Homo sapiens: one gene and its partners. The protein of the gene in region 6 purifies or fractionates together with the protein of the main gene of each other region. This does not show direct contact. Each region holds a gene or a part of one and is shown on either strand. Other genes may lie near its edges. The genes, in order: ASPM, SH3RF1, DCAF4, CCDC88A, BCL7B, WDR62 and IARS2.

What was found.
Region 1: the proteins of WDR62 (region 6) and ASPM purify together in Homo sapiens (pull-down; one study listed by IntAct). This does not show direct contact.
Region 2: the proteins of WDR62 (region 6) and SH3RF1 purify together in Homo sapiens (affinity purification with western blotting; one study listed by BioGRID). This does not show direct contact.
Region 3: the proteins of WDR62 (region 6) and DCAF4 purify together in Homo sapiens (co-immunoprecipitation; one large-scale study listed by IntAct). This does not show direct contact.
Region 4: the proteins of WDR62 (region 6) and CCDC88A purify together in Homo sapiens (affinity purification with mass spectrometry; one large-scale study listed by BioGRID and IntAct). This does not show direct contact.
Region 5: the proteins of WDR62 (region 6) and BCL7B purify together in Homo sapiens (affinity purification with mass spectrometry; one large-scale study listed by BioGRID and IntAct). This does not show direct contact.
Region 7: the proteins of WDR62 (region 6) and IARS2 purify together in Homo sapiens (affinity purification with mass spectrometry; one large-scale study listed by BioGRID and IntAct). This does not show direct contact.

What each region holds. Positions count from the first base shown.
Region 1 is NC_000001.11:197,104,623-197,109,066, reverse strand, and holds part of ASPM (abnormal spindle-like microcephaly-associated protein), read left to right. Parts: intron 1-3,881; coding exon 3,882-4,444. UniProt on the Homo sapiens protein: Involved in mitotic spindle regulation and coordination of mitotic processes.
Region 2 is NC_000004.12:169,260,597-169,265,040, reverse strand, and holds part of SH3RF1 (E3 ubiquitin-protein ligase SH3RF1), read left to right. Parts: intron 1-4,444. UniProt on the Homo sapiens protein: Has E3 ubiquitin-protein ligase activity. In the absence of an external substrate, it can catalyze self-ubiquitination. Stimulates ubiquitination of potassium channel KCNJ1, enhancing it's dynamin-dependent and clathrin-independent endocytosis.
Region 3 is NC_000014.9:72,936,222-72,940,665, forward strand, and holds part of DCAF4 (DDB1- and CUL4-associated factor 4), read left to right. Parts: intron 1-1,728; exon of another isoform or gene 1,729-1,749; coding exon of another isoform or gene 1,750-1,757; coding exon 1,758-1,849; intron 1,850-3,580; coding exon 3,581-3,681; intron 3,682-3,998; coding exon 3,999-4,156; intron 4,157-4,444. UniProt on the Homo sapiens protein: May function as a substrate receptor for CUL4-DDB1 E3 ubiquitin-protein ligase complex.
Region 4 is NC_000002.12:55,409,175-55,413,618, reverse strand, and holds part of CCDC88A (girdin), read left to right. Parts: intron 1-4,444. UniProt on the Homo sapiens protein: Bifunctional modulator of guanine nucleotide-binding proteins (G proteins). Acts as a non-receptor guanine nucleotide exchange factor which binds to and activates guanine nucleotide-binding protein G(i) alpha subunits.
Region 5 is NC_000007.14:73,550,455-73,554,898, reverse strand, and holds part of BCL7B (B-cell CLL/lymphoma 7 protein family member B), read left to right. Parts: intron 1-1,229; coding exon of another isoform or gene 1,230-1,351; intron 1,352-2,656; coding exon 2,657-2,732; intron 2,733-4,444. UniProt on the Homo sapiens protein: Positive regulator of apoptosis. Plays a role in the Wnt signaling pathway, negatively regulating the expression of Wnt signaling components CTNNB1 and HMGA1.
Region 6 is NC_000019.10:36,057,668-36,062,111, forward strand, and holds part of WDR62 (WD repeat-containing protein 62), read left to right. Parts: intron 1-1,112; coding exon 1,113-1,204; intron 1,205-2,300; coding exon 2,301-2,363; intron 2,364-4,444. UniProt on the Homo sapiens protein: Required for cerebral cortical development. Plays a role in neuronal proliferation and migration.
Region 7 is NC_000001.11:220,099,998-220,104,441, forward strand, and holds part of IARS2 (isoleucine--tRNA ligase, mitochondrial precursor), read left to right. Parts: intron 1-492; coding exon 493-652; intron 653-2,131; coding exon 2,132-2,280; intron 2,281-2,365; coding exon 2,366-2,415; intron 2,416-2,497; coding exon 2,498-2,607; intron 2,608-2,689; coding exon 2,690-2,780; intron 2,781-3,449; coding exon 3,450-3,565; intron 3,566-4,444.

The DNA of each region.
Region 1 (4,444 bases), on a different chromosome or scaffold from region 6:
TGATACATATACTGTATAGCGATCACATTAGGACAATTAGCATATTCATCATCTCAAACATTCTTCTCTGGACTTTTTTTTTTTTTTTTTTTTTTGGAGACAGGGTCTTGCTCTGTCGCCCAGGCTAGAGTACAGTGGTGCAAACACAGCTCACTGCAGCCTCAATCTCCTAGGCTCAAGCCATCATCCCACCTCAGCCTCCCAAGTAGCTGAGACTACAGGCATGTACCACCACACTCAACTAATTTTTGTATTTTTTGTGGAGATAGGGTCTCACTAAATTCCCCAGGCTGGTCTCGAACTCCTGGGCTCTAGTCATCCTCCTGCCTTGGCCTCCTAAAGTGCTAGGAATACAGGTGTGAGCTACTACACCTTGCCAGATTCTGTTTTTTAAATTTGTATAGGACTATTTATCTTTGATGAGTTTTGGCAGTTTCTAATTTTCGAAGAATTGGTCCATTTCATCCAAGTTGTTGAATTTACCATATGTATATACAAAGTATATCTTTAATATCCTTTTGATGCCTGGGTAGTCTGTAGTGATATTCCCTTTTTCATTCCTGATATTGATAATTTGTATCTTCTCTTTTCTTCTTTGTCAGTCTTGCTAGAGTTTTAACTCTCTTGATCTTTTCAGTGGACAACCCTTTGGCTTCATTGGTCTCTGCTCAGTCTTTATTATTTCTTGTTTTGATTAATTTTGCTTTTCTGTCTATAGTTTCTTTAAGTATAATCTTGAGTAACTGATTTGAGTCCTTCCACTTTTAATGTAACACATTAATGGTATAAATTTTCTTCTAAATACAGGTTTAGCCACATACTACAAATTTTGATATGGTATTTTTTTTTCATTCAGTTCAAATAGTTTTTAATTTCTCTTGAGGCTTTTTCTATGATTTAAAGTTTCAGAATATGTTATTTACTTTCTAAATGTTTGGAGATTTTCCTATTATTTTTCTGTTAGTGACTTTTTCTTCAATTCCATTATGACCAGAGCACATACTGTGATTTCAATTCTTTCCTATTTGATAACCTTTAGTTTATGATCCACAATATGGTCTATCATGGTCAGAGGTTGGTATATCTGCAGGCCAAATTTGGCCTACCATGTGTTTTTATAAATAGAGTTTTTTAGAATATGGTCACAACTATTTGTTTATGTATTATTTGGGAGCTGCTTTTGTACTACAATAGCATAATTGACTTGTTGCAACAGAATTGGCCCACAAAGCTGAGATATTTGCCATCTTGGCTGTCATCTCCATTCTGCTATTGTGCCATACCAGTGAATTTTTATTTTGGTTAGTGTGTTTTTCGGTTCTACTATTCTCACTTGGTTCTTACTCATATCTTTGATGTCTTTACTGAGACTTTTTATCTTTCCATTAGTTTCAACTTGTTGTAGCATTTTTACTTTATCTGCTCTAAAGTCGTTGTCAGTTAATTCCAATTCCAGTATCTTTGTCATCTCATCATTGGTGTCTATTGATTATCTTTTCTTGTGAGAGTTGAAATTTTTCTGTTATGTTGTATGTCAAATAATTTTTAATTGCATTCTGGAAATTTAATGTTATGTTATCAGACTCTATGTTTTGTTTAAATCCTATGGAGAATGTTGATATTTTAGTTTTAGCAGCTAATTCACTTGATTGGGTTCAGGCCACCTGTTCTCATCAGCCTTCCATGAGCGTAGCTTCAGTGACAGTTCCTTTTTGAAAGCCTTTACAGTGAGTGATATTTGTATCATATCAGTTTCATTATGTAACACCCAGTAGCCAGTCTGGGATCTAGATTGTGATCTGTATCTTATTCAATTCTTAAAGTCTATAGCCTACTGTGGTCTAGATTCACATTGTGCACAACTTGGTGGTGAACCTAGAAATTCATAAACAACATTATCAGATTGCTTCCCTGAGCTCCCCAGTCTCTACCATCTCCCTGGTACCCTCTAGTTCCTCAGGGCTGCCTTGTTTCATCATCTGACCAGAAAACTGAAGATTGAGTTACACTGCTCTACTGCATTCTTTCCATGACTGCGCCCATATCTCAAGCAGAGAAACTCTTTTGTATGAGGAAAAACAAAGTATGGCACAGGTTATAGTTACTGGGAGAGATGAAGAATTGGGCTGTTAATGCACTCAACCTGCTGCAGATATCTGTGGTAGAGTAGAAAGAACATTTGATTTTGGTGTAATAATGTAGATCCTAAGATCAATTATTTTTATTTGCTGTGGGACTTTGCAAAAAGTTTTGTAACATTAGTGTTCCTTTCTTTAAGTGAAGAAACAATGCCAACTTAATGTATTTTTGTGAGAATTAAGTGAGAAAATTGTATGTAATGTGTTCCTTAGTAAAAGCTATTTATTTTTAAGAATTGTATGACAATGGTGAAAAAATTGCTATTGTAATAAGCAAAACTGTTAGGAGAGGAGATGATCATATCTTCCATGTTATATATCAACATTGATTAACATTTCAGTAATGGAGTAGTAATAGTAATGTAGAAAAAGTGATTATTAAAGTATAAAACAATCTGTACACACTGATTCTTCAATTTCTTAGTTTGAGGATTTTACATAGAAATATCTGTTGGGGGTGGGTGCTCAAAAGAAAAATAATATCTGAATTTCTGAGTACTATTACTGCTTTACTTTGCCCTAATTTAAAGCAAGTTAATACTTTATGTAGAGTTTATTGTTTTCAAAATACTTTTGTACAAATAAGTTTGACTGTTGTTGGATAAATATTTTGACAACTTGTGCATCTCTTCTTGGTAAGATAAAATGTATACAATCATTTCCTGTCAGGTTGAAGAGTATGAACAAAACCTCAGGTAACATTTAGTAGAGGAAGAAGACAATAAAACTTACAGGAAAAGGGTCAGGAAAAGGGATGTGCATGTTCTCCTTAAGCTTCCTCACCCATGGATAGGTATGCTTAGGCCAGTGATAGCTGCAAGCAAACTCGATACTGCTATAGGAGAGCGAGGTACCCAGTCCCTATATTACTCTACTTATATGCGAGAAAAAGTAAGATGTAGTAGAGAACAACCTCTCCATGCCACCCCCAATCTCAGCAATGTTTGGAGTGTTTGTACAAAGGAATGGTCTTATTGCTAAAACATCTAGAACTTGACTACCATTAGCCTGGGACCATTTTAGATACCAGCAACTGGAATTAGCTTGAGAGTTTGTAGCTCTTTTTGTTGAGCCAACATACAGTTGGATTAGCCATTGTAACCATGGCTTTTCAAAAGACAAAAGTTTTGTCATTTCTCAAGTCTTTCTAGAATTCTACTTTTAAGCCATGTATTTATAGTTCCTAAATTTGGGAAAAGGAAGTAATTTTATTCTTAATGAAAATAATGACTCTGAGAGTGATCTGGTTTATTTATTCCTAAATTCCTATATTTATATTATCAGGCCTGTAATGTGATAATGCAGGATCCTTCACATAAACAGTTTCTAGTCATTATAAGGTAGCTTAGAAACATTGAAGTAAGGGGACCATATAAGGCCCAGAAATAAACTCATAGGAAATTACTTAGAATCAATAGATAGCAAAGAATATTACTATAGTTTTATTTTGACTCTTTTGCTTGTAATATAACATAAACTTGCTTATGTTTCTTATGATTCTGGCATACAAATGCAGTATTTAAATATAATGAAGATTTGGATGGATTTCTGAATTGGCTACAGGTATATCAATGTAAAACCTAAACTAAAAACAAAAGAGACAAATATCTCACAAAAATAATTAGTTTTCTAATTCAATGTGTTTATTTTTAAGCAGAATGTTAGAAAAATTAGTATTTTGAAAAGTGTTAAATATAGAAAGCTATGCCTATTTTACTTTGTGTCCTTTCTTACCTTTTCCAGGGATATTGGAGAAGATATTCCACTAGACAAAGATTTCTGAAATTGAAATATTATTCAATCATCCTGCAATCTAGGATAAGAATGATAATTGCTGTTACATCTTATAAACGATATCTTTGGGCTACAGTTACAATTCAGAGGCATTGGCGTGCTTATTTAAGAAGAAAACAAGATCAACAAAGATATGAAATGCTAAAATCATCAACTCTTATAATCCAATCTATGTTCAGAAAATGGAAGCAACGTAAAATGCAATCACAAGTAAAAGCTACAGTAATATTGCAAAGAGCTTTTAGAGAATGGCATTTAAGAAAACAAGCTAAAGAAGAAAATTCTGCTATTATCATACAATCATGGTATAGAATGCATAAAGAATTACGGAAATATATTTATATTAGATCTTGTGTTGTTATCATTCAGAAAAGATTTCGGTGCTTTCAAGCCCAAAAGTTATATAAAAGAAGAAAAGAGTCCATACTAACCATCCAGAAGTACTACAAAGCATATCTGAAAGGAAAGATTGAGCGCACCAACTATTTGCAGAAACGAGCTGCAGCCATTCA
Region 2 (4,444 bases), on a different chromosome or scaffold from region 6:
GCGTGAGGGTGAATTGTGTGTGTGATCTTCAAAAGCTTCCTGAGGAAGAGGCATCTGAGCTGAGATCTTAAGGGTGAAATGATATTAATTAGGGAATGGGGGCTGGGCAGGGAAGGGGCAGAGGCGAAGAATATTTCAAAGGGGCTGACCTAAACAGGAAGGGATGTGCCTCCTAGGAAGAACTGACAGAAGGTAAGTGTGAACTAGGCAAGCCACAGGGATGGTGTAAGATGAGGCCTCAAATTTGATAATGTAGAAGGCATCAAGAACTGCCCCAAGGGCCACGTAGGGTGAAGGGTCAGATGGGTAGGATAGATAGGAAGTGCTCTGCATTTGGGATAAGAAAGAGGGACCATTGGGACTGAGACGATTAGCAGGGCTTCAGAACAGATACGGGATTGGAGCTTGTGTCAAAGAATGGAGAGATCGGGAAAGAAAGGTAGGGAATTCTAGATATGAGGGAACACACATGAAATTTATTTTCCCCTGTAAATGCTGTGTCTGCTTTCATTTCTCCATAGCACAGTCATACCTCCTTTCTCCCTCTTTCCCTGTTGCTGACTGTTAGGGGCTGAATTATGTCCCCCAACATTGCTACGTTGAAGTTCTAACTCCTAGTACCTCACAATGTGGCCATATTTGGGGATAGGACCTTTAAAGAGGGGGTTAAGGTAAAATGAGGTCACATGCATGGGCCCTAATCCAGTAAGACCAGTGTTCTTATAAGAAGAGGAGATGAGGATGCAGACACATAGGGAAGACCATGTGAAGACACATGGAGAAGATGCCACTTACCAACCAAGGAGAGTTGCCTTCAAAGGAAGCCAACCCCACTGACACCTTGATCTTGGACTTCCAGCCTCCAGAACTGTGAGGAAATACATTTTTGTTGTTTAAGCCACCCAGTCTGTGCCCTTGGATGTAGTAGCCCTAGCCAACTTGTACTCTGACTGTAGACATACTCCTAAAGGTCAGCCCCTTGAGTGGCCTCTCGGTCCACTGCCAATCCCTTCAGTCCTGGTTTCCCCAGAAACTGGCAGTGGTCCAGCCTTCTGTGTTCTGTCATGGAATACCTTTGAGAAGTTGTTCAGCCCCTCCCTACTCCCTCAACTACCCACATTGCCTGGCATAATTTCTTAAAATAGACAGGCATGTTATAAGGAAGTTGAAGTTTATGTGACAGTATACCAGATGCACAGAAAGTTCTGGAGGAAATGAAGGAAATATTGAGAGGGGAAAACTACTACTTTCTTATCTCTGACAAATTGGATTGATCTGTAGCTGGAGTCTGGAGAGAGTGCTTTCCAGGACTCAGTAGTACCTAAGGCATTACTCAAGGGATAGGTAATGATGGACAAACCAGATACAGATCCTTACTTGGTGCTTTCCAGGGCTAAGTAGCACCCTAGTAAGGCATTCTAGGCTTTATTCCAAGGAATGGCATTGGCAGAAAGAATTGAAGGAAGTAGTGGGAGAAAGTTAGGACAACTGAGTTGCTCCAGGTTTGGTGTGGAAAGCAACTGCCAGCTGTGAACTGTGCCGTGGGACATCTTTGACATCCATCTATGAACAAGCACCTGTAGAGAGCTTTCAGGTCCAGTTATGTTCAATAATCTATACTAGGTCAAAGATGACATTAATGCATGTTTCTGTTGAAAAAGTTTACATTTGGGGGAGGTAACACACAAGAAACAACAAGTAAGGCAGCAGATAGTGAAGCATCAGGGGGTGGGATAAGATATAGAATAAGTCTCTATCTATGATGGGGTTCTTTTTTGTAGTTCGTGGTCCTTGGATTAAGTGCATGGTCAAAGAATACCAAGTGTGGACCAGAGTGGTTGGGACATGCTCCCCTGGCGTGTAAGGTTCACTACAAACACTGACGGACAAAGGAGTTGTTGTCTTCGCACAGATGGGGATGGGGATGTGTATTAACTCATACCGGACCCAAGCAAGACATTTAATGTGGTGGTTTGGATGAGGGAAATGTTTCTGTGTGTTTCAGAATGATTGAATTAAAACGGAAAAGGTGGGTTTTGTTTGTTTGTTTGTTTTGGCTAAACCATGTTTGTTGCATGCTTGACCTCTTATTTTATCCATCCTTGATCCTTACTCCAGGCTTCATGTCTGCCCCATCCCTGACCTTTACTTCATTCCTGAGCTAGGCTTGATGGTGAGACTCGGAGATGAGATCTTGAACAGGGTAGAAGGAAGGTATGGGAAAGGGGGTCTGTGGTGCATACTAATTGATAATTTTTTTAAAAAAGTAATGATTCTTTTTTATATCACATAAAGTGTCATGTAACCATAATCATGTAAACCTCACAACAGCTTTCTGGGGTCAAGTGTTATCATTTTATTTATTTATTTTTTTGAGACAGAGTCTCACTCTGTCACCCAGGCTGGAGGGCGATGGTGAGATCTCAGCTCACTGCAACCTCAGCCTCCTGGGTTCAAGCGATTCTCCCACCTCAGCCTCCCAAGTAGCTGGGATTACAGGCGCCTACCGCCATGCCTGGCTAATTTTTGTACTTTTAGTAGAGGTGGGTTTTCACCATGTTGGCCAGGCTGGTCTCCAACTCCTGACCTCAAGTGATCCACCCACCTTAGCCTCCCAAAGTGCTGGGATTACAGGCGTGAGCTGCGGCACCCAGCCTAAGTGTTATCATTTTTAAAATGAGAAAGAATGTAGATTTCAAAATGTATGTAAAAGCATTCTGGTTGTAAAAAAAAATTCAACCATATAGAAGAATATGTTATTAAGTGTGTATATACTTGCAGATCTTTTCATATACATTTATATGTGTATGCATATAGTTTCTTGATTTTTTGCAGAACTAGAATTTCATGCTCTGGAGATTCAATGATTTGCTAATTCATTTACTATATCTATGAAATCTCTTCATGTTTAAGCACATAGACCTACTCCAGTTTTTGAAAAAACTCTTTATTGATGTATAATATACACATAGAAAAGTGTACTAATTATGTGTACCATTCATTTAATTTTTCATAGTATTTTTCTCATAGTATTTTTACTCATAGAATTTTTCTTCATAGTATTTTTCTCATAGCATTTTTCTTTCTGTTTAAAAAATACTCAGTGTAAGAAAAATACTCATAGTATTTTTCTTTGTTTTAAGAATTAAAAATAATACATGCTTATGGTAAGAAATGTAATAGTAGAAGATGATGTAAAGGAGAAAATCAAGGCTTCCAATATCTCTACTCCTTTGTTCCTAATCTCTAGGGGTAACCACTGTCACAAGGTTTTTTTGTGTTTTCTTTCAGACAAAAAATTGAATAGAAATGGAATCACATTGTATATGCAGTTCTGCAACTTGTGGTTTTTAATTTAATGATAAAACTTGGATAGCTTCCGTATCTACTCACATTGATCTATAAGAAGCTATTATGCATTCTTTTTTTTTTTTTTGAGATGGTCTCACTTCTGCCCAGGTTGGAGTGCAGTTGGAGTGTTTACGGCTCACTATACATTATTATTCTTATTTCATGGATGTAGGAGGGGTGGCTGAAAGACTTTAAATAACTTGTCCAATTTCTGATCCCAAATGCTTCCTTCCCTTACCTGCAGTTGACTTAAGTGACAAACATTTTCCCTGGGACCTCATGTTGCTTTTAGCAGGGGAATCTTTTCTCAGTTGCAGCTGGCAGAGGTTATTCTTTCCTCACTGTCCTTGCTTCCTATTTTGTTTTGACAAAAAGAGGACAAATAAAGCTCCTTTACAATGACAGTGGACCAGGAAAGCAGACTCTCCTTAGCTTGATGTATGGGGAAGAGTGTGGTTTGGAGGTCAGAAGTTGTGGCCTCTGGTTCCAACACTGCCATGGGCTGGCTGTGGGGTTTCTCTGGGCTTCATTTCTTCAGCTCAAAGATGCGGAGCCATAGGGACCTAAGCTCCATGCAGAGTGGTTGTGGGAATGGGGCTGGTGAGGGGGCTGAGTTTGGTCCATCTTTGACTTTTCAGAGCCCTTTGTAGTGTCTGGCACAGAGTACACACTCACAAGAGGTTTGTTGAATAAATGAGTGAATAAGTGAGTGGAGTACCAACCTCTCTAGGGATCCTTAGCTGTATATTTAATTTCATTTCTATTTGGGATGATGAGAACCAAAGTTACTGAAAAGATACCGAAAAGATTATAAAGTGGATGTAGTGTTTGGCTGTAGAGCTACATAAAATACAGACATGAACTCAGTTATGTTGGTTTCCTGTGTGTGAAAAGTAGCCTGATGCAGATCTCTTTGGCAACCCTGATCCCCCACCCGTCCCAGTTTCCTTCATTTATTATCACTATTGCTCCAGTCCTTATTTATTTATTTATATTTCTCTTTTGCGTGACTGAAGGAGAGAAATTATTCTGTTACTGCTGGCTGGGCAGGGAAAAGGAAAATCCGAGGGAAAGGGAGGAAAGAGATAAAATC
Region 3 (4,444 bases), on a different chromosome or scaffold from region 6:
AACCCACACATGGTGTTCAGGAGCCATTGTTTAGGACAATGAATAAGATAAAAGTTTTGGAGCCGGGCTTGGTGGCCCACGCCTGTAATCCCAGCACTTTGGGAGGACGAGGCAGGTAGATCACTTGAAGCCAGGAGTTCTTGAGCAGCCTGGCCAACATGGTGAAACCCCATCTCTACTAAAAATACAAAAATTAGCTGGGTGTGGTGGCAGGTGCCTGTAGTCCCAGCTACTCGGGAGGCTGAGGCAGGAGAATCGCTTGAACCCGAGAGGCAGAGGTTGCAGTGAGCTGAGATGGCGCCACTGCACTCCAGCCTGGGCAACAGAGCGAGACTCCATCTCAAAAAAAAAAAAAAAATACACACACATTTGGGCTGCAGGGGCAGGGATATTGCTTTCAGAGAAGAGAGGTATAGACAGGCAAAAGAGCAGATCGGGGGTTAGAGAGAAATCATGAACTCACTTTTGAACCTGTTGGGTCTGTGGAGATAGACACGAAGCAGCATAGGAACTTGGTGCTCAGTAGCGATATTAGGGTTGGAGCTGCATCTGCATTGGTAGATGAGGTGGTGTTAAGTCTGAAAAGAAAAGGATCTAGGACAGAACAATGGAAAGCACATACAGGGTGTGTGACCCAGGAGAAATGAGCAAAGGATTTATTTAGCAAGAAGAAAACCAAGAGAAAGATATTACAGAAGCCAAAGGAAGAATGTAGCCTCCTGGTGCCACATGTTGCAGGAATAAGGGCTAAAAAGAGACCACTCACTTTGGCAAGTAGGTAATCAATAGCAAGAGCATTTTAGTAGAAAGGCGAGGAGAGAGGAAGCTCAACTGCAGTGGGTTGAGGAATATCGGGAGATGAAGACATTGAATTCGTAGATGTAGACCATTCTTTCAGAATATGCCCATTTTTTTGGATTAGAAATGGAACACTTACAAATGAAAAACCTGGGCATGTTTTTAAAAGCTGAGATAAGGAGAAGGAGACATTAACATATGGGGGAACAGATAGATGTCTGCAGTTCCTGGGAAGGAATGAAATCAACAGCCAGGTGGGATGGGTCTCCCTTGAAAAGGAGCAGTGATACCTGTTGTCCAAGACAAGGAAGAAGACAATTAGTAAAGGCAGGTATTTGTGGAGCAGAAGGGAGTGAAGTTAGGGGTTTCATGCCTGGCAATTTTTCTTTTCTTTTTTTTTTTTTTTTTTTTGAGATGGTGTCTTGCTCTGTCGCCCAGGCTAGAGTGCAGTTTACAGTGAGCACAATCTCAGCTCACTGTAAACTCCACCTCCCGGGTTCAAGCGATTCTCCTGACTCAGCCTCCTGAGTAGCTGGGATTACAGGTGCACGTTACAACTCCCGGCTAATTTTTGTATTTTTAGTAGAGATGGGGTTTCACCATGTTGGTCAGGCTGGTCTCGAACTCCTGACCTCGTGATCCGCCTGCCTCGGCCTCCCAAAGTGCTGGGATTACAGGCATGAGCCACCGCGCCTGGCCGACCTGGCAACGTTTCTGTGGGGTAGGAAACTATGTGGTCGACTAAGGGTAACAGGAAGGAAGTGGGAAGGATGTTGGGGGAGTGCTGGAGGCAGCCCTTCCCAGGTAAGGCTTGCTGTGGCAAATCTGATGATAACCCAGGGTGGGCCAGCCTTTTGCTGGTGCTGAGCATGAAGCAGCTGCCAAGAAGCAAACAGAAAAGCCCATGCCCACACACAGAGATGTATGGATTTTTTTGTTTTTCTCTTTTAGGAACAGAAATGAATAAAAGTCGCTGGCAGAGTAGAAGACGACATGGGAGAAGAAGCCACCAGCAGAACCCTTGGTTCAGACTCCGTGATTCTGAAGACAGGCAAGTGTGCCGCTCTGGGGAGCCACTTTTGCCCAGTGTGCTTCTGGCATTGTACACATGGCATGTCACACGATCACAGGTGTGGAGATCACCTGGGGGCTCGTCCCAATGCAGGTTCTGATTCTGTAGGTCTGAGGGGTCTTGAGGAGAGCCTGCCTTCCTAACGTGCTCCCAGGGCATGTCGCTTTGGTGGGTCAGCCCACCTCACTGAGTAGTGAGGAGAGAGGACCACTCTCTGTTCTTTCCTAAGTGACCACGACCTCTGGCCAGAGCATTCGCCATAAAGCTAGAGGTAGACGTTATCTGAAACAACTGGAAAACCGTTTCTCCATTTTGTAGACTTTTTATGCAAATACCTTTGTGGAAACCAAATTTTATTAATTCAGCCTAAGTCTCGGACAAGGATATACACTCATGCTTCGCTTAACAAGGAGGAATGCATTCTGAGGAATATGTTGTTAGGCAGTCGTGTCATGCAAACATCATAGCACATACGTAACACAAACCTACATGGTACAGCCAGCCACACACACCTAAGCTATATGGTGTAGCCAATTGCTCCGAGGCTGCAAACCTGTACAGCATGTGACTACTGAATGCTAGAGGCAGTCAGTACACAGTGGTATTTGTGTATCTCAACATAGAAAAGATACAGTAAAAATAGGGTATATAAGATTTTTTTTTAAATGGTATACCTATGTATGACACTCCTGTGAACAGAGCTTGCGGGACTGGAAGTCAGTGAGTGAGTGATGAGTGAACACAAAGGCTTAGGACATTACTGTATGCTAGTGTAGACTTTAAAACCCTGTACACCAGGCTACATTACATTTATTTATTTATTTAAGAGATGAGGTCTCACTCTGTTGCTCAGGCTGGTCTCAAACTCCTGAGCTCAAGTGATCCTTCTGCCTCAGCCTCCCAAAGTGCTGGGATTACAGACTTGAACCACCACCCAGGCCAAGGCTACATTAAATGTATTTTTAAAATAAAGTTGGCTGGGCCGGGTGTGGTGGCTGACGCCTGTAATCCCAGCACTTTGGGAGACCAAGGCAGCCGGATCACTTGAGGTCAGGAGTTTGAGACCAGTCTGGCCAACACGGCGAAACTCCGTCTCTACTAAAAATATAAAAATTATCTGGGTGTGGTGGCACACACCTTTACTACATCCTTCAGCCTATAATTCCCTCAGAAGCTACTTGTGGATTTACAAATCAAGTGTTTTAGCCGCAGCTCTATCCCAGTGTTACTGAACTAATCACCTCTGTCCCCCAAACCCCAGTTTCTCTGTCTGTAAGATTGTGTAGTCAAGTAAAATTTAAACTCTTTGTGCTACTGAATCCAATAAAGAATGAAATTCACCTAGCCTTGTAACTGCTGTTGTGCTGACAAATGAGCCCAGCTGGTAAAATTCTTATTGGCAGAGATTTCTATTTTTCCTTTTAATCTGGAAAATTCCACAAGACCTCACAAAATGCGCGAGTGAGAAGATAAGAAGAGGGAATCACTGTGACATCTGTCCTCTTTTAAAGAAAGAAAAAAGAATGAAAAACCAAAACCTTGCCCTATTTTGTTGTATTTGCAAGAGGGGATCAGTGCTTCTCAAGTAATCAGAAAGGTCAGAGATCAGAGGTGAAGGCTGCAGAACTGCCCGAATGGACTCCCTGCCCCCGTCAGAATGGCTGGAACTCAAGTCCTGGGCTGCAAGTTAACACAGCTGTGTGTCAACAGGTCTGACTCCCGGGCAGCACAGCCCGCTCACGATTCCGGCCACGGTGATGACGAGTCTCCGTCAACCTCGTCTGGCACAGCTGGGACCTCCTCTGTGCCAGGTAAGGCCACTTGCGGGGTGGGAATCCTGGCCCTTGCACACAGGGAAGGCTGAGACCCGTTCCTGGCTTGGAAGGAATTCCAGGAGCAAATTGAAACACTCAGGGAAGGAGCTGGGTGCGTCAGGAATGGTGGTCATGAGGCAAACCGCCTCCCCCAGGACTGAGCACAGTCCAGGATGTTGCCTGACAAGGCAGCTCATCCCCGCCCTCAGAAAAGACAGGCAGCCACGAGGTGGGGGGACAGGCCACTGGGCGCCCAACTCAGGTGGTCAGTTCACAGTGGTTGAAATTGGTGCATTTAATTTTTTTGTCTAAAGAGCTACCTGGGTTTTACTTTGACCCTGAAAAGAAACGCTACTTCCGCTTGCTCCCTGGACATAACAACTGCAACCCCCTGACGAAAGAGAGCATCCGGCAGAAGGAGATGGAGAGCAAGAGACTGCGGCTGCTCCAGGAAGAAGACAGACGGAAAAAGGTGGGCTCCTCACCCCTTCGCCCCCTGTCCTCTCCGCTCCTGCCAGCACCTGTCCATCCACTGTTGAAAAGGGTGCCAATTAGATGCCCCTGCGACACTTAGCAGAGGCACTTCAGGGGGTGTGGCCCTAGCTTTTCCCTGACAGGAAGAAGACAAGAATAAGAACAGCCAAGAGCCCCCTTCTTCCATCCCCGTTTTCTTGTTCGATAAGTTGTTTTTTTTTTTTTTTTTGAGGCGGAATCTCACTCTGTTGCCCAGGCTGGAGTACAGTGGCATGATCTCAGCTCA
Region 4 (4,444 bases), on a different chromosome or scaffold from region 6:
TCTTAGGACAGTGTTTGACACACAGTACATTCTTGATATATTTCTGTTGAATGATTGAATAATACAGCCATGTGTAGTAAAGTGGAATGAATTTGAGCCTTATGTCAGATAGACATAGACTTGGGTTCAGTTCTAGCTGTGCTACTTATTGGTATGTGAGCCTAATATCTCCAAATTACAGTTCCTACATTTATAAGATGGGAGATAATGTTTCCCTTCCTGATGGGGAAGGATTATCTACTAAGGCAGGGACAGATAAGTCTATTTTCTGTTTTGTTGACCCACTATATCCCCAGTGCTGGTTGCTGTCATTATTATTATCCTGTGCTATGCTATATCTACCTACTTATGGCTCCTCAAGTAAATCATGATAGTTCACAGCTTAGTTTTTTTGTTTGTTTGTTTGTTTTTGAGACAGGATCTCACTCTGTCACCCAGGCTGGACTGCAGTGGCACAATCGCAACCCACTGCAACCTCAAACTCCTAGGCTGAAGCAATCCTCCCACCTCAGCTTCCCAAGCAGCTGGGACTGCAGGCATGTGCTACTGCACCTGGCTAATTTTTTAAAATTTTTTTTATAGAGACCGGGTCTCACTTTTTTGCCCAGGCTGGTCTTGAATTCCTGGGTTCAAGTGATCCTCCCACCTCAGCTTCCCAAAGTGGCTGGCATTACAGGCATGAGCCACTGCGCCTGGCCGACAGCTTAGTTTTGTATGATCTCTGTTAGTGTCACCTCTATATAGCTGTATGATCTTTAGTAAGTTACTTAATTTGTAAGTGGGATAAAAAGTCACAGGATTGTTATGAGAATCAAATAGAATAATGTATGTACAATGCTTAACATATAGAAAGTGTCCAATAAATGTTAGCTCTTTATTGTTTTATTTATATTATTATCATTAGAATTATTTTCTTCAAGACCAGCGGTCCCCAACCTTTTTGGCAGCAAGGACTGGTTTCATGGAAGACGATTTTTACATGGAGCAAGGCTGAGGGGAGATGGTTTCAGGATGAAACTGTTCTACCTCAGATCATCAGCCATTAGATTCTTATGAGGAGAGTGCAACCTAGATCCCTCGCATCTACAGTTCACAATAGGGTTTGTGGTCCTGTGAGAATCTAATGCTGTTGTTGATCTGACAGGAGGCAGAGCTCAGGCAGTAATGCTTGCCCGCCCACCACTGATCTGCTGTGTGGCTTTCCTAACAAGCCATGGACCCAATCCATGGCCCAGGGGTTAGAGACTCCTGCTCTAGACTATCCTTCCCCTTTTCTTTGACTAACCAATTCCTGCTCTTCCTTTAATACCTTGTGAAGTCCCCAGGCAGAGTTGTTTTCTTCCTTATGATTCGGAAGTACCTTCACCTGCGTAGCTATTGCTTTGCAGTATTACTGTTTAGGGGCTAGATGTTTTGTCTCACATATTACTAGCACCTAACCTAGTACTTAGCATGTATCACTAGCACCTAGCATAGAAGTTGGCATGTCGTAAGTTGTAAGTAAATGTTGAAGGAATAAGTGAAGATAGCTGCAATTTTATTAATTTTCAAAATTTTGAGAATACCTTCTAGTTTTAGTACTGTAGAATTTAGTTTATTTTTTAGTTTGTCTTCTGTTTCTCCTTTTTGTTTGTTCTCTCTCTTTCCCCGTATTTGTTTTAATTACCTTTATTGGATATTTTTCCCACCGATGTTATATCTCCTTTGAGGCAAGGTGATAGGAGCAAGATTTCATGGTCCATGGTTTTTTATAGTATTAGAATATACAGTGCTTTCAGTTTGGTTTCCAATAACTTTCCTGTCCAATATGTTGAGTTTTTTTTTTTTTTTTTTTTTTTTGAGACGGAGTCTTACTCTGTCGTCTAGGCTGGAGTACAGTGGCGTGATCTCGGCTCACTGCAACCTCCTTCTCCCAGGTTCAACCAATTCTCCTGTCTCAGCCTCCTGAGTAGTTGGGATTACAAGGTGCCCACCACCGTGCCTGGTGAAGTTTTGTGTTTTTAGTAGAGACGGGATTTCACCATTTTGGCCAGGCTGGTTTCGAACTCCTGACCTCAAGTGATCTGTCCACCTGAGCCTCCCAAAATCTCATGCTGGGATTACAGGCATGAGCCACCGTGCCTGGGCCATGTTGAGATTTTTTTGTCCACAGCTTTGTATTGGACTGTCTTCAAGAAAAGTCCATTGTGATTGCCTCATTCTCAATATGATTCATATGTAGTTAAACTACAGAAATGATGAGAACCTAGAGAAGAACAGGTGAACTAGTTGTTATACCTGAGAGTATTTTTAAATTTTTTAACTGAAAATTTTCTCTTAATATATATTATGGGAGACTAGTTCTCACAGGATAAATGGAAAGGAAGACCAGTTCTTTCAAAAGGACACCAGCTGACTTTCTTTTAGGATCCATGAAACAGTTTGATACCATTCTAGGCATTAAGTTTTCAATATTCAGAAATAGTATTTGAGATTATACTTGGTACTGGGACATCTGTATAATACTTAATTTATTAATTAGTAAACTGGCTGCTTTTGGAGAGTCAGAGTGGTGGGAGGGCAAAAACAAAAACATGGGCTTGAAAGTTTAAATCCTGAATCAATCATTTAATATTTAGCTAGTTATTGAAACTGGAAAATTACTTTAAATGTTCTCTTTATTCCTGATTCTATTTTTATGCCTTCTTAGATCTATTTTACTAGTTTAATAATTTTTTTTTTTTTTTGAGACAAGGCCTCTCTCTCTTGCCGAGACTGGAATGCAGTGGCGAGATCTTGGTTCACTGCAACCTCTGCCTCCTGGGCTCAAACGATCCTCTCACCTCAGCCTCCTGAGTAGCTAGGACTACTACCATGCCCAGCTAATTTTTCTTTTCTTTTTTTTGTTTTTTGTTTTTTGTAAAGGCAGAGTTTTGCTGTGTTGCCCATTCTGGTTCCAATCTCCTGGGTTCAAGCTATCCACCACCTCAGCCTCCCAAAGTGCAGAGATTAGAGGCGTGAGCCAGTGTGCCTGGCCTACTTTAATAATTAATAAAAATAGGTGGATAAAACCCATCAACTTCACTCTGAGTGAGAGGAGATCTGCCCCTAACATTTGTAAGATCCAGGATAAGCATCCATTTACCACAATAGGCCTAAATATTTAAAGCTTATAAACCAGGCCAACAAATCATTATCTATATTCTAGTCTTTTCTCTTGATAAATATACCTTCATAATGACTTGAAAGTTTCAAATTTAAAATCTGTGGAATTTAGAATTCATAAATTCACAGTTTTGCAGCAGAGTGTGGTTAAGCCCAACCTCCTCCCGTCATCTCTGGCTCTTTCTAGCACCACAAAGAGGTCTCCTGTACATGCTGTGAACACCTTGCATGCACGCACAAGGTCTAAGCTCTTGTACTCCCATCCCCAAACAAGTACTCCTTGGCCCAAGGGTGTACACAAGTGTAGCACAGTCTTTTCTAAGGACAGACCTAGGAAAGAGGCCTGTGTGGGCCTTCAAATTGAGTTAGAAGTGCTTGGGCAAGAAATTGCAAAGTTCTGGGCACCTGGAGTGTCATTTAAAAGTGGGGAGGTAGGCCAGACTTGGGGGCTCACACCTGTAATCCCAGCACTTTGGGAGGCTGAGGCGGGTGGATCACTTGAGGTCAGGAGTTCAAGATCAGCCTGGCCAATATGGTGAAACCCCGTCTCTAATAAAAATACAAAAATTAGCAGGGCATGTTGGCGGGCCCCTGTAATCCCAGCTACTCGGGAGGCTGAGGCAGGAGAATCACTTGAAGCTGGGAGGCGGAGGTTGCAGTGAGCCGAGATTGCGCCACTGCACTCCGGCTTGGGTGACAGTGAGACTCTGTCTGAAAAAAAAAAAAAAAAAAAAAAGGGAGGTATATAGGCACATCCCCCTGTTTACATGGACTCCTCTCCCAGTGGAAGCATGTGGGCCGAGGAGGGCCGGAGTTGGACTCAGGGCAGAGCTCTCTCATCAGGATCTAAATGTAATACTCAGTGAGAGGGATGAAGGGCTAGTTCATTCAAAGATCAATTAATATGGGAATAGTTTCTAAGTACTTACTGTGTAATAAACTGTTAGATGCTAGGAATAGGATGCTTTGCCCACAATAAGGGGGAGGTGCATGTAAACAAATTGCAATGTGGTATCTGTGCCATGATAAGGAATTATGTTCTTGAGACAGTGTTCGCACAGAAAGGGAAGTGATGATTTACATGGAGGAAAGGCTTCTTGGAGGAGATGATGTTTGAGCTGGACATGAGAGCTCCGTAGGAGAAATCAGAGTGAACAGGAGTCATAAGTAGTGGGAGAGTGGAAGGAAGGACATTTTAAGCAAAGAAAATAGCATGAAAAAGAGGCATGAAGATGTAAATAACGGTGGAGGAATTAGGAAGTTTGAGAAAAGTGGAAACATTTTACAAGGCTGCTAAGAG
Region 5 (4,444 bases), on a different chromosome or scaffold from region 6:
GAATTAATTTTAGTTATTTTCTAAGACTTTAATTCGCTCCTTCTGTTACATCACAGTCTCTTTACACTCCCAGTATGTCATCTGTTTTTTTTTTTTTTTTTTGAGACCCAGTCTTGCCTGTCACCCAGGCTGGAGTGCAGTGGCGTGGTCTTGGCTCACTGCAGTGTCCGCCTCTGGGGTTCAAGCAGTTCTTCCGCCTCAGCCTCCTGAGTAGTCGGGACTACAGGTGTGCGCCACCATGCCCGGCTAATTTTTGTATTTTTAGTGAGGACAGGATTTCACCATATTGCCCAGGCTGGTCTCGAACTCCTGGGCTCAAGTGATCCACCCACCTCAGCCTTCTAAAGTGCTGGGGTTGCAGGTGTGAGCCACCGTGCCCGGCCCTATTATGTCATCATTTGCTGAACAGCATCAACAACTACAACAGCAGTTGCTTTTTTTTTGCTTTTTCGTGACTTCATATTTGGACTTGACTCTTTGAGAAGTTGGCTCAGATCTGTGACAAAGCAGTTCCCTGCATTTGACCCTTGTTCCTACTGACAGCAAGTACCTCTTAAGGTATTGGTGGACCTTAAAATAAGCAAATTTGTTCTCTGCCTGCACGCTTAGGGAATAACCTTCTTGGAATGAAGGAGAGGCTGGGCACGGTGGCTCACACCTGTAATCCCAGCACTTCGAGAGGCTGAGGCAAGAGGATCGCTTGAGCCCAGGAGTTCAAGATCAACCTGGGCAACATGGTGAAACCCTATCCTTACTAAAAATACAAAAAATTAACTGGGCGTGGTGGCCTGTAGTCCCAGCTACTTGGGAGGCTGAGATGGGAGATTCACCTGAGCCTGGGATTTTGAGGCCGCAAGGAGTGGTGATCACGCCACTGCACTCCAGCCTGGGTGACGGAGACCCTATCTCAAAAAAAAAAAAAAAAAAAGTCTCCTTTGTTCTATCTCCTCCACACATTTGTTTGCAGACCTCGAAGGCACTCTGTGGGTAAGCTCAGAACAGTGGCATTCTAATCTGGTGTAGATAGTTGGGGGTCCTTAGTCATTTAGAGAGTGACCTTGTGCAAGGCTTATCCCTTTGCTTATTTCGTGAGCGTAGTGGACTGATAAACTCTGCCATTTTTACCCCTTTGGAACACAGCAAGAGACAGGATTTCTACAAAGCTTTGAACTTCAAAGTTGAAATTTAAAAATTTCTTTAGACTAGTTTTCTTTCTTTTTTTTTTTGAGACGGAATCTCGCTCTGTCACCCAGGCTGGAGTGCATTGGCGCAATCTCGGCTCACTGCAACCTCTGCCTCTCAGGTTCAAGCAATTCTCCTGCCTCAGCCTCCTGAGTAGCTGGGACTACAGGTGCGTGCCACCACACCCAGCTAATTTTTTGTATTTTTAGTAGAGACAGGGTTTCACCGTATTAGCTAGGATGGTCTCGATCTCTTGACCTCGTGATCCGCCCACTTTGGCCTCCCAAAGTGCTGGGATTACAGGTGTGAGCCAGCGCGCCTGGCCTAGTTTTCTTTTTCTTTATGCAGTCTTAGTAACCCAGAAAGGGAAAGGTTCCTAACATTTCACACCCACCAGGCCATACCCCCCAGCAGCAGGTGTCTCTCCTGAGATTGTTTGCCCCTTGGAAGGGTCTTTAAATGGACACAGGAGGCCAGGTGTGGTGGCTCATGCCTGTAATCCCAGCATTTTGGGAGGCCAAGGTGGGCAGACTGCTTGAGACCAAGAGTTCAAGACCAGCGCGGGCAACAAAGAGAGACCCCCCACCCCCACCCCACCACCCCAACCATCTCTACAAAAAATAAAAATTTGGCTGGGCGTGGTGGTGTGCGCCTCTAGTCCCAGCTACTCAGGAGGCTGAGGTGGAAGGATTGCTTGAGCCCAGGAGGTCAAGGCTGCAGTGAGTTATGATTGTGCCACTTCACTCCAGCCTGGGAGGCAGAACGAGACCCTGTCTCACTAAAACAAACAAAGAAAAGGAATGTAGTAATAGAACTCATATATTTGGTAAAGAGAAAAGCACTCAAAGTAACTCGCATGCAAGTAAAAAAGAATATGGTGCTGTGTGTGCTACCTTCCAGCCTTATGTCCCACATCCTTTTTTTTTTCTTTCTTTCTTTTGAGACAGGGTCTCTGTTGCCCAGGCTGGAGTGTGGTGGCGTGATCTCAGTTTACTGCAACCTCTGCCACCTGGGCTCAAGGGATCCTCCCACCTTAGCCTCCGGAGTAGCTGGGATTACAGGCACACGCCACCACGCCCAGCTACTTTTTGTTTTTTTTTTGTAGCGACAGAGTTTCACCATGTTGGCCGGGATGGTCTCGAACTCCTGACCTCAAGCGATCTGCCCACCTCAGTCTCCCAAAGTGTTGGGTTTACAGGCGTGAGCCGCTGCGCCTGGCCTGTATTTTTTTTTTAGAGATGAGGTCTCGCTAAATTGCCCAGGCTGTTCTCAACCTCCTAGGCTTGAGTGATCCTCCTGCCTCAGCCTCTCAAAGTGCTGGGATTTCAGGTGTGAGCTACCATACCCCACCAAGAGGAAGTTCAGAAGGATTCCAGATTGAAGGAATGATCTGCTGAGTAGTAGAAAAACACAAGTGATGAACAGAAAACACATTGCATTGTTTTATCCGTTCTAAGAAGTGTCTTTCTTTTAGGGAGAAGAAGTGGGTGACTGTGGGTGACACGTCCCTGAGGATATTTAAGTGGGTTCCTGTGACAGACAGCAAGGAGGTAAGTGTGGAAGAAAATCAAAAGATACCATTTTCTTTATTTCTTTATTTGATTGCCTCTTTTTTTTTTTTTTTGGGACGGAGTCTCGCTGTGTCACCCAGGCTGGAGTGCAGTGGCATGATCTTGGCTCACTGCAACCTCCACCTCCTGGGTTCAAGCAGTTCTCTGCCTCAGCCTCCCAAGTAGCTGGGGTTACAGGCATCTGCCACCACACCCAGCTGATTTTTGTATTTTTAGTAGAGACGGGGTTTCACCATGTTGGTCAGGCTGGTCTTGAACTCCTGACCTCGTGACCCACCTGCCTCAGCCTCCCAAAGTGCTGGGATTACAGGCGTGAGCCACTGCACCCGGCCTAATTGCCTTTTAATTAAAGGAATTTATTTGCCCAGAATTGAGTGGAAAATACTTCAAGGTACCCTGTTATTGGTCCATGCAAGGCCTCTCTTTATTATTTTCCTACTTTATTCCTTTCCCTTAACCCAAGCCTCTTTTCCAGGGCTTGACAAACTACAGCCCTGGCGTATTCCTTAGGTTTGTCAGTATAGTTCTATTAGAACATAACTGGCTGGGCGTGGTGGCTCACGCCTGTAATCCCAGCACTTTGGGAGGCCAAGGTGGGCGGATCACTTGAGGTCGGGAGTTCGAGACCAGCCTGGCCAACATAGTGCAACCCCTGTCTCTACTAAAAATACAAAAAAAGTAGCTAGGCCTGCTGGCAGGCACCTGTAATCCCAGCTACTCAGGAGGCTGAGGCAAGGAGAATCGCTTGAACCTGTAAGGCAGAGGTTGCAGTGAGCCAAGATCCCGCCACTGCACTCCAGCCTGGGCAACAGTGTGACACACCATCTCGAAAATAAGCAAACAAACAAAAAAAACCAAACACATAAGTATGCCCACTGATTTCCTTATTGTCTGTGGTGCTTTTGAATTACAGTGGCAGATTGAGTGGTTGCCATAAGGCCAAATGGCCCGTAAAACCTAAAATATTTATCATCTGACCCTTTAAGAAAAAGTTTGCTGATACTTGCTCTTATGCGATTAGTCCCCCACTGTATTGTGTGTATCATATGTATATACATCTTTCTAATTCTGGTGTAGACCTTTGTGCTTCATCTTTGTTGGATGTATTTGGATACCTGTATATTCTTTAAAAATACATAGCATTGTTTCATATGTGTATTTTTGTGTTTAAACAAAACTTAAATATGTGGGCCGGGCGTGGTGGCTCACGCCTGTAATCCCAGCACTTTGGGAGGCCGAGACGGGCGGATCACGAGGTCAGGAGATCGAGACCATCCTGGCTAACATGGTGAAACCCCGTCTCTACTAAAAGTACAAAAAATTAGCCGGGCATGGTGGTGGGCGCCTGTAGTCCCAGCTACTCGGGAGGCTGAGGCAGGAGAATGGTGTGAACCCAGGAGGCGGAGCTTGCAGTGAGCCGAGATCGCACCACTGCACTCCAGCCTGGGCGACAGAGTGAGACTCCATCTCAAAAAAACCAAACAAACAAACAAAAAAAAAACAAAAAAAAAATATGTACAGTATTTTGCCAGAACCTCTTTGTATTCTCTGTGGTTCAACTTTGGTTTTTTAATTTGGGGTTTTTTGCTTTTTTGTTTTTTTGAGACGGACTCTCGCTCTGTCGCCAGGCTGGAGTGCAATGGTGCAATTTCAGCTCACTACAACCTCTGCCTCCCAGGTTCAAGCAATTC
Region 6 (4,444 bases):
CCACACCTGACTAATTTTTTTGTATTTTTAGTAGAGACAGGGTTTCGCCATCTTGGCCAGGATGGTCTCAAACTCTTGACTGAGCCACCACACCCAGCCTTGTTTAAATTTTAAATATTACTGTTCATGTGGTTTTTTACTCGTTGAAACCGCTCAAATTTCTGGACTGTGAATCTGATGTGGGGAAACTGTCTACCTTTGGTCACTACTGTGTCTCTCCTGTACAGCCCAAAGTGCTAGCTTTGGAGCCAGACTGCCTGGGTTTGTATATCAACATTGCCACTTGCAGATGTAGGATCTTGGGCCTCAGACTTCTTACCTGTAAAACAGGGGTGATAATAGAGCCTTCTTCGTGGCTTGTTGGGAGGATTCAAGTCTTTTATACATATAAAAGTACTAAGAGGCCGGGCACAGTGGCTCATGCCTGTAATCCTAGCACTTTGGGAGGCCGAGGCGGGTGTATCACCTGAGGTCAGGAGTTCGAGGCCAGCCTGGCCAACATGGTGAAACCCCATCTCTACTAAAAATACAAAAATTAGCCGGACATGGTGGCATGTGCCTGTAATCCTAGCTACTCAGGAGGCTGAGGCAGGAGAATTGCTTGAACCTGGAAGGCGGAGGTTGCAATGAGCCAAGATCTCACCACTGACTCCAGCCTGGGTGACAGAGCAAGACTCCATCTCAAAAACAAACAAAAAAAAGTACTTAGAAACTTATTCACAGGTCACCTTCTCACCGCGGCATTCGCCCCCTTCCCCTGTGCTCCTAACCTCCTTATCTGCTTTCTTCTCTCTTGCACCCATCATTACTTGGCATCTATTTCACATATTTGTTCTGCTCCTTTTCTATGTTCTACATACCCATCACCAGTAGAATGTGAGCCCCCCGAGGGCAGGGATTTGTCTCTTCCTCACCACTCTGTGCTTTTCACCTAGCGTTGTATTTGTCAAAGGAATGTTGAGAGAACAAGTGTTAGCTGCTGGTGGATGGCGTGGCCACAGAAGCTCAGTGTGGGTGTTGAATGTAGCAGGACCTGAATGGGTGGCCAAGGCGGCTGCACCATGTGGTGCTGGCTAGGGTGGGTGCCTCTGACTTGGGCTTTTTCTTTGCAGGTGTCACTCGAGAAGGTGCTTGGCATCACAGCCCAGAACAGCAGTGGCCTAACCTGTGACCCCGGCACAGGCCATGTGGCCTACCTGGCAGGGTAAGCAGATAAGGGCCTCGACGTCTAATCATTGCTAGGGAATTTGGAGCTTGGAACCTGAAGCCATCCGTAAATCGCTCTGAGCCTCATATTTTTCACCTGTAGAATGTGGAGAATGGGGCCTGCCTCTGAGAGCTGTGGAGAGGATTCCATAGCCCCCTCTCTGTCTAGAACAGTTCCTGGCATGTAGTGAGTGCAATGAAAGCCTTTATTATGACTACAGGGGGGAGGTGACAGCGATTCTGGGAAAGACAGGTGATTAAAGTCCACGCTGTGGTGTCAGGTAACCTGGATTTGTGTCCCAGCTCTGCCATGTATGCTGCTCTCTGAGCCTCTTCCTCTGCCTCTGTAAAACAGAGCTGGTGACCCCCTCTGCTTGCATAGTTGAGAAGACTGAAGAAGATGCTACAGCTGTTCATTCCATAAATACTCATGTAGCCTGGCACTGTGCTAAGGACGTCCCCTCTCTGGGTTTGTTTCCTTATCTATAAATGGGCCTAAATAGTCGTGACCTGACCTGGCAGTTGTGAGGATTTAAAACAATTACATCCCTCTTTCTCTCTTTTTGTTTTGTTTTGCTTTTTTGAGACAGAGTCTGGCTGTGTTGCCCAGGCTAGAATGCAATAGTGTGAATAACAGCTCACTACAGCCCCAACCTCCTGTGCTCAAGCGATCCTCCCATCTTCACCTCCCATGTAGCTGGGACTACAGGCACATGCCACCACAGCCAGCTAATTTTTTTTAGTGGAGATGAGATCTCACTCTGTCGCCCAGGCTGGTCTAAAACTCCTGAGCTCAAGTGATCCCTCCTGCCCCATACTCCCAAAGTGCTGGGATTATAGCCAGCTTAAGGTCTTAATTAGCCTAGGGCCTGACAGACATTACCTCAGAGGAAGTGTTGGTTTCTATTTAAGAACATAGCAATGTTAAAGTGCCCTAGAATTCTCAGCGTAAACACCTGGAGGAGGGGGAGGAGGAGGAGACCAGAGAGAACCGAGGGAGCTTGTTTATTTGTGGGCTTTTCTGGTGGGAATAGAATCATCCCAGGACCCCAACACTCCCCACAGTTGAGGCACATTTTCCTCTTTCTTCCCAGCTGTGTGGTGGTGATTTTGGACCCCAAGGAGAACAAGCAGCAGCACATCTTTAACACCGCCAGGTAGGCTGAGGCCTGGGCCCGGGGCAGGGGTGGAACCAGGGGCTTGGCACGCCTCCCCTCCCCTACACAGCCTGGAGATACTCATGGGTAGGTGCTCACTCATTCACTTACATGTTGGCTCAGCAGCATTCGCCTGTGCTGGGTGCTGTTCCGTGTGCTGGGGACACAGCAGTGACCAGAGGAGACGAGAATCTCTGCTGGCTAGAGCGAGACAGACTGTAAACTAGTCAGCAAATTACGGGCTGATCATGATCAGTGCTATGGAGGAAATGATGGAGGATGTCTTCGGGCAGGTTTGTGGGCAGAGAATAGGAGGAAAGCCTTATCAGAAGGCTCAGGGAACGCTGCCTTGACTCTGAGACCTGAAGGAAGCGAGAGGGTGACCCATAAGAAGCTGTAGGGAGAGCGCTTCAGGCAGGGGGCACAGGAAGGGCAAAGGCCCTGCAGTGGTTAAGAATCTCCGGCGCTTTAGAAGCAGCCAGGGATCTGGGTGCCTGGAGAAAGGAGCAGGGAAGATGAGGCTGGACCAGGCAGAAGCCACATCCCGTAGGCCTTGCAGCCTTGTAGAGGGTCTGCATAGCATGCTGAGTGCAGAGAGCAGCCACAGGAGGGCACCACAGGCCAGGAATGTGCTTTTCACCCCCAGCCCTCCAGCAGCTCTATTCCCTGCTTTGCTTTTCTCCACAAAATTTGCTCCCATCTCTGATATGCTGTCCAGTTTCCTCATTGATGGTATTCACTGTGGGTCTCCCTCAGTGTGAGCACTCTTGAGAGCAGGGACTTTCTCTGAGTTCATTTCTGTGTCCCTAGCACCAAAGAGCAGTATCTGGCATATTGATGGCTATTTTCTAAGAGAAAGACTTAACATGATTTGGGTTTTAGAAAGATCCCTTCAGCTATAAGTTTACTGGGGAAGGACCCGCTCCTCTGCCTTGGGGCTAACTGATCACTGCTACCCTGGGGATGTGGTCCCAATAGGGCTGTGACCTTTGGAAGGCACACCATGTCCCTCCTTGGCATAGCTCAGGCTCAGCTCCTTTGGCCCAGTTCTCCAGGTGGATGGATAAGGAGTGGGTTTTCTCCTGCCCTTATGGTCCCTAAGGTACGGTCCTTAAGCTACGGCAGGTTCTTGTTATCTGACAGAAGTGCATTCCCTCTTGAAAGTGGCTTTTTGGACCTTTTGCTCCTAACTGTGGGTTCTGTTACTGGTGATAAGGGCAGAGCTGGGTTCCATTCCTGGCTCAAGCGTCTATTCACTGTGGAATCTCAGGTGAGACACTTCTTTCAGAGCCTTGGTCTCCTCTGAAAATAAAATAGCTGCCTCCAACTGGGAGAGCATTCATAAGGCAGCAGCTACAAACCAGAGTCACACACACTTGCCCAATATAGTATGTTTTAAAGGTTGGATAAGTGGACAACATTTCAAGTTTTTTAACACAAAAATCCAAATGTCCCTTTTGTTTGGAGAAGTGAGAAATTCTCTGGCCTCTGGGGCCCAAATTCCCCTGTGGCAGTGAGGGGCTGAGCTTAGTGAAATTTGTCAGGCCCGTTGTGGCCAGTTCCTCACACCTGTGTTGCCTCCCTAATCCCTGTAGGCAGTGGAGTGGGTGGCCTGGATCTATAGTAGATGGTATGCAGGTGTCCGCCCTTGGCCACCAGTGGGTGTGCATTAGGAGGTGGTGTGGCCAGTGTGGGGATTTTCACTCCAACTGCATATCAGAATCACCTGGTCCCTGTGCCTCACCGCCCCCCCACCGCCACGCAAGAGAAAGCCAAATCAGTTGATCTGGGATGAAACTTGGGCATTGGCAATTTTGAGACTTTTTATATTGAAATAATTTCAGACTTAGAATAGTACAAAGAGCTCCTATATACCTATGTACCTTTCACATATTTCACAAATGTTAGCTTTTTTTTCTTTTTTTTTTTTGGACACAGAGTCTTGCTCTGTCACCCAGGCTGCTGGAGTGCAGTGGCACAGTCTCAGCTCACTGCAACTTCCACCTCCCGGGTTCAGGTGATTCTCATGCCTCAGCCCCCCAGGTGGCTGGGACCACAGGCATGTGCCACCATGCCCAGCT
Region 7 (4,444 bases), on a different chromosome or scaffold from region 6:
GGAAGAAGGAAATTGAGCTTGGAGCCAAATCTATCCTTTGCCTTTGATTCCTCCATTCAACTATAGTAATATATTTTTTAAAAGGCTCTGCTGCCCTCTGGTATCTAAAATGAATTTAAAAAGGTAAATTGGTTCTAGAACTATACCTAATGAAGAGGTCTACTGTTTTAGTAAGGGTTTGTCAATGACAGAGTTAACCACAATATTCCATTCTCTGAGTACACTGTAAGTTCTGCAATGGTTTGATGATATTTCTTAGCTCAATATAAATAATATTAGACTATTTGTGTCAATAGTTTTTTTATGAGTTAATTTATACGTTTCCTTTCAAATTGCAGTTTTAAAAATGGTATTAAGTTTAAAAAAAAGAACATAAATTGTAGGCCAAATATTTTATGTATGAATGCTAATTATCATTTTATCTTTGCAGATTTTGAAATACATGGCCAAATATTTTATGTATGAATGATAATTATCATTTTATCTTTGCAGATTTTGAAAGACATAGCCAATCGATTCCATATGATGAATGGCTCCAAAATACATTTTGTGCCCGGCTGGGATTGTCATGGGTTGCCCATTGAAATAAAAGTATTATCAGAACTTGGTAGAGAAGCTCAGAATCTTTCAGCTATGGAAATTAGAAAGAAAGGTAAATAATCTGTATTTCTGTTTTAAAATGATATTTGTAAACACTCAGGTCCTTGAAATAGTCAGAACTTTACCAAAGGAACCTTTTGTTTGGGTTTCGTTTGCTTATAATAAGATCTATTGGAAACGCCTTTCTGTCACAGAAAATTCAGATTTTATTTCATTGATTTTTGTAAGAACTTATGTTTGGATATTGAAGGAAAGACTTTGTGAGCATTTCTGATTGCATTCTCAGTTTCTTAATGTTCATATTTTAAAAAACTATTTTTTGGTAAATTCTTTTTTCTGCTTTCCTCAAGGGGGCTTGTTGACTGATTTTAGGTGTTAAGCCAAAATTCAATTCTAAAATACATATATTTTACATTAATCTTTTATTTGATCCTTTTTCTTCAGTCGACTGGGCCAAGGGAGGATTCTCTTTTTCTTATATGTTATACTATTGTACATTTGGATGTAACTGTGAAGATTTTTTTACTTCCTTGTGAAACCTATTATCATTGGCTTAGATTTGATATTCTGATTAATTTTTTGTGTATAATGAAATGAAAATTGTTATCTGACCTTTTCTTAAATTAAGAAACAATAAGGAATAATTTTTCCAGTTTATTTGTCCTAAATATGAGGTCATTGTATAAAGTCTGGAAAATACAGAAGACAGTAATAAAATTTTAACTTTTGCAATTCCAGTTAATTTTAGAATTTGTTGTAGGTATCTTCTGAACACTGTTGACCTTCAAATTATTTTTCTATTAAAAAATTTTTATAGGCTGGGCACAGTGGCTCATGCCTGTAATCCTAGCACTTTGGGAGGCTGAGGGAGGTGGATCGATCACCTAAGGTCAGGAGTTTGAGACCAGCCTGGCCAACATGGCAAAACCCCGTATCTACTAAAAATACCAAATAATTAGCCAGGTATGGTGGCTCACGCCTGTAGTCCCAGATACTTGGGAGGCTGAGGCACGAGAATTGCTTGAACCTGTGTGGCAGAGGTTACAGTGAGCTGAGATCCGCCACTGCATGCCAACCTGGGCAACAGAGCAAGACTCCATCTCAAAAAAAAAAAATTTTGTGCTCGGGCGCCGTGGCTCACGCCTGTAATCCCAGCACTTTGGGAGGCTGAGGCGGGTAGATCACGAGGTCAGGAGATCCAGACCATCCTGGCTGACACAGTGAAACCCCGTCTCTACTAAAACTACAAAAAAATTAGCCGGGCGTGGTGGCGGGCGCCTGTAGTCCCAGCTACTCAGGAGGCTGAGGCAGGAGAATGGCGTGAACCCGGGAGGCAGAGGCTTGCAGTGAGCCGAGATCATGCCACTCGCGCCACTGCACTCTAGCCTGGGTGACAGCGAGACTGTGTCTCAAAAAAAATTTGCATTCTAAACTGTCTGTAGCATTTGCATTTAGAGAGATACATGCTAAACCATGTTTAAGAATTCGAATTCATTGGTTTTTTAAAATCTTTTTTTCGTCTTTTTTTTAGCTAGATCATTTGCTAAAGCAGCCATTGAGAAACAGAAATCAGCATTTATTCGTTGGGGAATAATGGCAGATTGGAATAATTGCTACTATACATTTGATGGGAAGTATGAAGCCAAACAGTTGAGAACTTTTTACCAAATGTATGATAAGGTAAAGAAGTATTTTTTCTCTTTGAGTAGGTTTTAGTATGCGTTACAAGATTCTACTTTTAACATCATATTTTTGTCTTTTATAGGGCTTGGTTTATCGATCTTACAAACCTGTGTTTTGGTCTCCGTCATCTAGGTATATATGCATTTTTCGGTAATTAAAAGGGAGAAATTTGTGAGGCTTCCAAGTATTTATGTTTAATATTTTTAACCCTTAGGACTGCATTGGCTGAAGCAGAACTTGAATATAATCCTGAGCATGTCAGTCGTTCAATATATGTAAAATTTCCTCTCTTAAAGCCTTCTCCAAAATTGGCATCTCTTATAGGTAAGATTTATTCATAGCTTGAGTGTACCAAAGTTATAGAATTATCCCATTTGCTAACATATTTACAATTGTATTTTCACAGATGGTTCATCTCCTGTTAGTATTTTGGTCTGGACCACACAACCTTGGACGATTCCAGCCAATGAAGCTGTTTGCTATATGCCTGAATCAAAGTGGGTATATTATTGCATTTTTTGTTTTATACACAAATAGAATGTATTCCATTATTAACATTATTTTGAATTTATTTTATCCTGTTTATTATTGTAAAATTTAATGAATTATAACTTAGTTATTATGTTCATATAGATTTTATTAACCTTTAGGTGATCCTTTTTATGACCTTATCCAGCTTTTCGGGAAAATGAAATAGAAGTATAAGTTACAAAGTGTTTTGAAAATAGTACAGTTTGATCTTGAAGTCAGTTTTTTCTTTTTTCTTTTTTTTTTTGGAGACCGAGTTTTGCCTTTTGTTGCCCAGGCTGGAGTACAGTGGCATGATCTTGGCTCACCACAACCTCCACCTCCCGGGTTCAAGCAATTTTCCTGCCTCAGCCTCCCGAGTAGCTGGGATTATGGGATTACAGGCATGCGCCACCACGCCAGGCTAATTTTGTATTTTTAGTAGAGATGGGGTTTCTCTATGTTGGTGAGGCTGGTTGCAAACTCCCAACCTCAGGTGATCCACCTGCCTTGGCCTCCCAAAGTGCTGGGATTATAGACATGAGCCACCGCGCTGGCCTGAAGTCAGTTTTTTCTAAAATGATTATTTAAAAATTAAAATGATATCTGTGGCTTTTCTTGTTTCATTATTAGTAATTTCTCCTAAAATTTTATGTTAGGTATGCTGTTGTGAAATGTTCTAAGTCTGGAGACCTCTACGTACTGGCGGCAGATAAAGTAGCATCTGTTGCTTCTACTTTGGAAACAACATTTGAGACTATTTCAACACTTTCAGGTGAAGATTTTTAGATATCTGACAACATAGTCATCAAAGTATTGGGCTGACTTGAATTTACTACTTTGCTGAACTGCATATTTTGAATTGAAACAGATATGGCCTCTACCTTTCTAGAATACATTTTACATTGATTACACTAAAGGAGAATATACATTAAGCATGATAGGAGTATAGAAAAATATGAATATTGATAAATGTACAACAGGTAAAACTAATTTCTGGCAATATCCAGTAGTTACTTGGTAAAATTTTATGCAAAATTAATTTTTAAAATTGTTTTTATCTGTTTTAATAAAAGTAGCAAGAAAGGAAATGCATATACTTATTTTTCGATACATAATTTTAATAAAGGATTGAATAAGTTCTGAAAATTATTCAGAAAGCAGTTCTTCTATCAAAGGAATTTTATTTTATTTTATTTTTTAAAGAGACAGGGTCTCATGCTGTTGCCCACTGCTGGAATGCAGTGGTCCAGTCAGCTCATTGCAGCCTCAAACTCCCGGGCTCAAGCAATCCTCCTGCCCTGGCCACCCAAGTAGCTGGGACTATAGGCACATGCCACTGCACCCGGCTAATTTTGAAAAAATATTTTACAGAGATGAATTCTTGTTGTGTAGCCCAGACTGGTCTGGAATTCCTGGGCTCAAGTGATCTGCCTGCCTTGGCCTGCCAAAGTGCTGGGATTAAAGGCGTAAGCCACTGTGCCTAGCCCAAAATAATTCTTTGTGAGCTATAATTTGGGACTTTTGAGGTAGTGACTGCTTTGAAATATAATTATGGAAGTCTAGGGAAGTTTAAAATTAGCTTTTTGTTGTTGTTGTTCTTCATTTTGTTTTGAGACGTGGTCTTGCTCTGTTGCCCAGGCTGGAGTGCAGT